Linked DNA regions of Homo sapiens. The protein of the gene in region 2 interacts with the protein of the main gene of each other region in a pairwise test. Each region holds a gene or a part of one and is shown on either strand. Other genes may lie near its edges.

Region 1 (3,749 bases), on a different chromosome or scaffold from region 2:
ATTACAGGCGTGAGCCCCCGTGCCTGGCCCCTGACGGAAGTTAGGTATTTCTTCCCTCACTTCAGAGAGGCCTTCCCTGTCCACCCCATCTGGGCAGGACCCTCACTATTATCTATCACAGCGGCCTGCTTTCTTCGGGGCATATATCACAATTTGTAATTACATATCTGTTAACTTGTTTAAGGCTGTCTCTCCAGCCCTGTGAGAACAGGGATGGTGTCTGCTCTGCTCACAGCTGCCTCCCAGGCTTCCAGCATGATGCACAAGATTCGGAAGGAGCAGACGGCTGTATCTGAGACAGTGTGTGTACTGTGTATGCATAGATGTCTTGGGGAGGCCAGGCGTGGTGGCTCATGCCTGTAATCCCAGCAAATTGGGAGGCCAAGGTGGGAGGATTGCTTGAGCCCAGGAGTTGAAGACCTCGCTGGGCGAGGTGGCTCACCCCTGCAATCCCAGCACTTTGGGAGGCCAAGGTGCGGGGATCACTTCAGGTCAGGAGATCAAGACCAGCCTGGCTAACATGGTGAAACCCCATCTCTACTAAAAATACAAAAATTAGCCTGGTGTGGTGGCATGCACCTGTAATTCTAGCTACTCGGGAGGCTGAAGCAGGAGAATTGCTTGAACCCAGGAGGTGGAGGCTACAGTAAGCCGAGATTGCATGCCTGTACTCCAGCCTGGGTGACAGAGCAAGACTCTGTCTCAAAAAAAAAGAAAGACTAGTCTGGGCAACATGGCGAAACCCCATCTCTACAAAATCTTAAAAATCAGCCAGGTGTGATGGTGCATACCTGTAGTCTCAGCTACTTAGGGGCCTGAGGCAGGAGGATCGATTAAGTCCCGGAGGTGGAGGCTGCAGTTAGCCGTGATTGTGCCACTGCACTCCATCCTGGGTGACAGATTGAGACTCTATCCCCGCCCCCAGCCCCCAAAAAAAGATGTCTCTTGGGAGATAAGAAGGTGTTAACCATGGTTTCCTCTGGGATATAGGAGACAAGGGCTGAGGACATTTAATCTGTTACTCTGGGCTCGGCTTTGCCGTTTGAATTCTCTTTTACCATGAACTACTTTTTACACCAGAGACATTTCAAATAGGAGAGAGAAATTGGAAGAAAATCCACCAAGGCATGAACCGTGATTATTTCTGGATGGCGAGGTTACGGGTGATTCTACTTTTTTCCTGAATGCTTTTCTGCATTTGTCTATGATTATCATGAATTAATTTGATGATCAAAATAAATCTGAATGTGAACCAACCCTTCTGTGGCCTTGTCTGGGCCTGTCAGGAGGTGGTGCCTGTCGGCTCAGCAGCACCAGCCTCAGACCCAGCCCCTCACACCGCCTTGCCTGTGTACCGGTTCCTCTGCCTGCGACTCCCTGGCACTAGTCTATGTGGACGTCACAGCATGGCCCCTGACTTGGCTCAGCCATCCCTGTCCACTCTGGGAAGCTCCCTTGACCCCCAGCCCAGGCTGGCAGAGGGGGTATCCCCCAGGGTCCCTGGCTTCCCCCTGGTTGGGCTTGAGAATTTTTTTTTTTTTTTGAGACGGAGTCTCGCTCTGTCCCCCAGGCTGGAGTGCTGTGGCGCAATCTCAGCTCACTGCAACCTCCACCTCCTGGGTTCAAGCAATTCTCCTGCCTCAGCCTCCCGAGTAGCTGGGACTACAGGCAACCGCCACAATGCCCGGCTAATTTTTTGTATTTTTAGTAGAGACGGGGTTTCACCATGTTAGCCAGGATGGTCTCGATCTTCTGACCTCATGATCTGCCTGCTTCAGCCTTCCAAAGTGCTGGGATTACAGGCGTGGCTGCCGCCCCTGGCTGAGAATATCTTTAAAAAGCCTCCAAGTCAGCTTCACCCACCAGATGGGGCCTGGGCTGGATGACGCAGGGACCCTGAAGTGTGTCAGCTCAGTCCTGCCCAGGGGAGCTCCCGACCCCACAGGGGAGGAAGACAGAAAAGGACAGGCTCAGGCTCCTCCAGGGCCAGGGGGCCTGTGGTCTCTGCCACACATCCCCCTGCAGCCCTGGCCAGTTCCCCTTGCTGGTCTCAGGCCTCCGGTAGTGACCCTGGTCTCCAGGGCCACCCCTGGCCAACTCACCCTCCTCCACCCCTGTGACGATGGAGGCAAAGTTGTCGTCCAGCAGGATCATGTCAGCTGCCTGCTTGGAGACGTCAGAGCCAGCGATGCCCATGGCCACCCCAATGTCGGCCTTCTTCAGAGCGGGGGAGTCGTTCACACCATCCCCGGTCACAGCCACAATTGCACCCTGGAGGGAGAGAGGGTAAGGATGACACCCAGAGGCCAGTCCCCAGAGTCCCCTCCCTCAGATCCAGAAGCCCAGGACCCCAGCCCCCTCCTCCTTCAGACCTAGAAGTTCAGGTCCCCAACCTCCTCTTCCCCTCAGACCTAGGAGTTCAGGCCTCCAGACCTTCCTCCCTCAGACCCAGGGGTCCAGACCCCCAGACCCTCCTCCCTCAGACCCAGAGGTCCAGGCCCCCAGCCTCCTTCTCCCTCAGACTCAGCAGTCCAGGCCCCCAGACCCTCCTCCCTCAGACCCAGGGGTCCAGGCCCCCAGCCCCTCCTCCCTCAGACCCAAGGGTCCAGGCCCCCACCCCCTCCTCCCTCAGACCCAGGAGTTCAGGCCCCTATCCCCTCTTCCCTCATACCCAGAAGTCCAGGCCCCCTCCCTCAGACCCAAGGGTCCAGGTCCCCAGCCCCCTCCTCCCTCAGACCCAGGAGTCCAGGCCCCCAGACCCTCCTCTCTCAGACCCAGGGGTCCAGACCCCCAGCCCCTCCTCCCTCAGACCCAGGAAACCAGGCCCCGGCCTCAGTGAGGACCCAGGAGTCAAGGCCCCGTCCCCTCCTCTGCGGGAGCGCAGCCCACCTGTCTCTGACAGCCCTCCACAATGATGAGCTTCTGCTGGGGGGATGTGCGGGCGAAGACGATCTCGGTGTGATTCTGCAGGATCTCGTCGATTTGCTCGGAGGTGAAGTCCTTGAGGTCGGTGCCGTGGATCACGCAGGCCTTGGCATCCCTGGGAAGAGCAGAGAGAGCGATGGCTGAGGTCAGGGTGTGTGAGGAGTGGCAAAGTGATCCCTGAAAGACAGAGAAACAGAGGGGCCAGCCCCACAACCAGGAGAGCCAGAGGACCAGGGGCTGGGGGAAGAGGCCTCTGGGAGAAGCAGGGGAGAAGGGGGCTACTGCAGCAGGGCGTGCGGGCAGACCTGAGGAAGGACTTTGGGGCAGTGGATTTATTTATTTATTTATTTATTATTTATTTATTTATTTTTGAGATGGAGTCTCGCTCTGTCACCCAAGCTGGAGTGCAGTGGCGCAATCTCGGCTCACTGCAACCTTTGCTTCTTGGGTTCAAGTGATTTTCCTGTCTCAGCCTCCCTAGTAGATAGGATTACAGGTGCCCACCACCACGCCTGGCTAATTTTTTTTTAATTTTTAGTGCAGATGGGGTTTTGCCATGTTGGCCAGGCTGCTCTCGAACTCCTGACCTCAAGTGATCCACCCACCTCGGCCTCCCAAAATGCTGGGATTACAGGCGTGAGCCACTGCGCCCAGCCAAGACACAGTGGATTCAGAGGAACGGAGATAAATGGACAAGCTGAAGGAAGGCAGAGTCAGAGATAGGTATGAGGATGGGAAAGTTGAAGAAGTCAGAAAAACAGAACAGAAAAGAGAGACAATGACAGACAGACAGGAAAAAAGAGAGACAGACACAGAAGTACTGG
Region 2 (3,749 bases):
AAAAAAAAGACGGGAGCAACAATATCTGGCAAATGTGGCCTCCAACAGACATGTAAGAGTAGACCACCACTGGGCATGGTGGCTCACGCCTGTAATCCTAGCATTTTGGGAGGCAGAGACAGGCGCATTGCCTGAGCTCAGGAGTTCGAGGCCAGCCTGGGCAACATGGTGAAACCCCCTCTCTACTAAAATACAAAAGAAATTAGCTGGGCATGGCGGTGGGCGCCTGAAGTCCCAGCTACTCGGAAGACTGAGGCAGGAGAATTGCTTGAACCCAGGAGGCAGAGGTTGCAGTGAGCCGAGATCGTGCCACTGCACTCCAGCCTCGGCGACAGAGCAAGACTTGTCTCTACAAAAAAAAAAGTACAGCACCTAATTAGCTTGGGGGCAAGATATCACAAATATCAAAAGGGGCATTCCACATTTTGAAATATAATCTCTGAGCACAAACTTCAGCACGGGACAAGTCCAACTGTAAGCAAGTTCTACACTGAGCACTGGCTTGAAGTCAATCCTGATTTAAAATTAGTTAATAGGCCGAGAGCAGTGGCTCACACCTGTAATCCCAGCACTTTGAGAAGCCAAGGCGGGTGGATCACCCGAGGTCAGGAGTTTGAGACCAGCCTAGCTAACATGGCGAAACCAGTCTCTGCTAAAAATAACAAAAATTAAAGGGTGTGGTGGCTGATGCCTGTAATCCCAGTGACTCAGGAGGCTGAGGCAGGAGAATCACTTGAACCCAGGAGGCGGAGGCTGCAATCTGCCAAGATCGCGCCACTGAGCTCTAGCCTGGGCAACAGGAGCGAAACTCTGTCTCAAAAAAAAAAAAATCAGTTAATAACTACACCTGAAGAATATAAACTTATCTAGCAGCCACTGGCAAGAAATTTCAAAGTGCTGGTCTTCTGGAAGCAGCAAGCAGCAAACTACCATAAATGAGTCTAAAATTATTATCTTCATTAGGCTTAACCAATGTCTTAAACTACACTGTTAACTAAATTTCCCTCAAAACCTTAAAGGCACCAGAATAAAGCTCAGGATCCCAAGTCTTAAGGACTAGTCCAAGCTCTAACTTTGCTGTGAATAAACCTTCAGTCAGTCATTTAATATGCTTTATTCATTTCTTCTGTAAAATAGAAATGGGCAAGGATATTTCAAGGAATCAAAACTAATAGTGGAAAAATTCAAAGTTCCTAAATGAAACACAGCCAACCTCTTGTTAAGAATTAAATAAAATTATATATGTAAAACTGCTCAAGAATAATGTTTGCCACATTTTAAACACTTAGTGTTAGGAACTGTTATTACACATTAATTTTAGTCAAATAGGAAAAAATATAAAACAACCCGATCAAGAAACTAAATATTTAATAATCCCAATCTTGTCCATTACCTCGGCATTCAAAACCTTGGAATGAAAATAATAGTTTAGCCTACTAGATAATGCAGCAGGAAAAATAAAATTATGATACCTTGGCTGATAGGTGGTTGTGTTTTTTTTTTTTGAAATGGAGTCTTACTCTGACGCCCAGGATGGACTGTGGTGGCGTGATCTCGGCTTACTGCAACCTCCGCTTCCCAGGTTCAAGCGATTCTCCTGGCTCAGCCTCCCAAGTAGCTGGGACTACAAACACACACCACCATGCCTGGCTAATTTTTGTATTTTTAGTAGAGATGGGGTTTTACCATGTTGGCCAGGCTGGTCTCAAACTCCTGACCTGAAGTGATCTGCCCACCTGGGCCTCCCAAAGTGCTGGGATTGTGAGCCATTCATTGCTCCCACCTGTTGATAGGTTGTTTGTTTGTTTTGTTTTGTTTTTTGATGGAGTTTCCCTCGACGCCTACGCTGGAGCGCAATGGCACAATCTCGGCTCACTACAACCTCCGCCTCCGGGGTTCAAGCGATTCTCCTGCCTCAGCTCCTGAGTAGCTGGGATTACAAGTGTGCGACACCACATCCGTCTAATTTTTGTATTTTTAGTAGAGATGGGATTTCACCATGTTGGCCAGGCTGGTCTCAAACTCCTGACCTCAGGTGATCCACCTACTTCAGCCCCCCAAAGTGTTGGGATTACAGGTGTGAGCCACTGAGCCCGGCAGGTTTTTATATTAATATTTTATTAGTTTAAAATAACTTTTCCTTACTCTAGCTGTCATTTTTTTTGTTATTCCTTTCAAATCACAAATTCTTCAGATACATGTCTTTTCCATTTGTTTCAAATATTGAGCAAGCCTGAATATCCAAACATAGAAACATCAGAAATCATAGGTGTATCTCTGAAAAATGCTGTTTTGAGCCCACGGGAATTGTGGCCATTGTACCATTTGCAAATGGAGATAACACCAAAGCGCAAATTATCGAGTCCTAGAAAAACAACAGATGTAGTGGTCAAGAAGCAAGATGTGTGCCAAAGAGGATAAGAAAAAGAAGCCCTGGCTGGACACAGGGGCTCAAGGATGTAATCCCAGCCCTTTGGGAGGCCAAGGTGGGCGGATCACGCGGTCAGGAGTTCAAGACCAGCCTGGCCAACATGCTGAAACCTGGCCTCTACTAAAAGCACAAAAAAAAAAAAAAAAGAAGCCCTAACTCCTCCACTCCCTGGCTACATAATTTTGGGAAAGTCATTTTATCTCTCTGAGCTTCATTCACTTTATCTGTAAAACGGAATAATAGTCTTACTTCTCTCACAGGATGTTTGGAAAGTCAAATGAGGAAACATACTGCAAAGCACTTTATGGCCTAAAAACTGCAATACAAATATATCAATCGGTATTTTGTTGTTGTTGCATGAGCAATGTTCAACATACAGGTTAAGTTACACACTAAACATAGAATTTTCATTTCAAAGTAAACCATTACCATTATTAAAAATTGATATAAAAAACTTGCCTTGGATTGATTTCTCTTTCCACTTCTCATGCTAAACTTCTCCTTCATTTCTTCTAAAATTATCTTCAGTTTCTTTTCTTCAGGTGTTCCTAAGTATTTTTGGTTCACATGAAGATAGCAATGCCATTTAGCTGATTCAAAGCCCCAGTGGCAAGTTCTTTTGTCAGGTGATCTGTGAGAATGCATCACAAACGTCTGGGGTGCAAACATTCCACAACACTCCAGACATTGAATACACGGAGCATCAGGCTGAACATAAAACTGGGGTGCAAATAAACCCTGACATTTGCCTAGGCATTCATGCTCCACTTCAAAGGCACTGCCAGTTTCCTTTAACTGGGCCAATGAGCTTTTAGCAGGAAGTACGCTACCATTTTGAGGAAAAGTTCGTGGCCGCAATAAAGCATTACATAATCTTTGTGCATCAGTTAATGTAATCAGCCCACAGGATGGGGCATTGAATGGAAGTATGCCCAGTACCTTTAAGATATGAAGCTGGTCTGAAGTACACCTTGAACAATATATGTACAGTTCATCACACACTGTATTTATTTGCTGGAGTGTAAATTCTCGGAGAACAGAATTTAAGACTTGGGGCAAACAGAGTCTCTTTTCTCCTCCAACTTGAAAACAAGAAATAGATTCCCCTTCCAACACAGTCTGAGTGAGTTCTGTGGAGCTATCTGAAGGGATGAGCAATGGGCCAGGAAGAACCTGAGGTGATGGAAGAGGCAGAAATACAGTAGGCGACATGCTTTCTTGGGAATGCCGAGCAGAAAATGCTGCTGGTCCACCCAGCGAGCTCTGACTACTTAAATGGAATTGTGCCAATGTGTGTTTCAAACTGGGATTTAAATGC

Evidence for each region. The genes of interacting proteins can lie anywhere in the genome.
Region 1: the proteins of SKIL (region 2) and ATP1A3 interact in binary tests that used the Homo sapiens proteins (3 or more experiments, as listed by UniProt).

What each region holds. Positions count from the first base shown.
Region 1 is NC_000019.10:41,973,527-41,977,275, forward strand, and holds part of ATP1A3 (sodium/potassium-transporting ATPase subunit alpha-3), read right to left. Parts: intron 3,041-3,749; coding exon 2,890-3,040; intron 2,272-2,889; coding exon 2,103-2,271; intron 1-2,102. UniProt on the Homo sapiens protein: This is the catalytic component of the active enzyme, which catalyzes the hydrolysis of ATP coupled with the exchange of sodium and potassium ions across the plasma membrane.
Region 2 is NC_000003.12:170,360,571-170,364,319, reverse strand, and holds part of SKIL (ski-like protein), read right to left. Parts: coding exon 2,891-3,749; intron 1-2,890. UniProt on the Homo sapiens protein: May have regulatory role in cell division or differentiation in response to extracellular signals.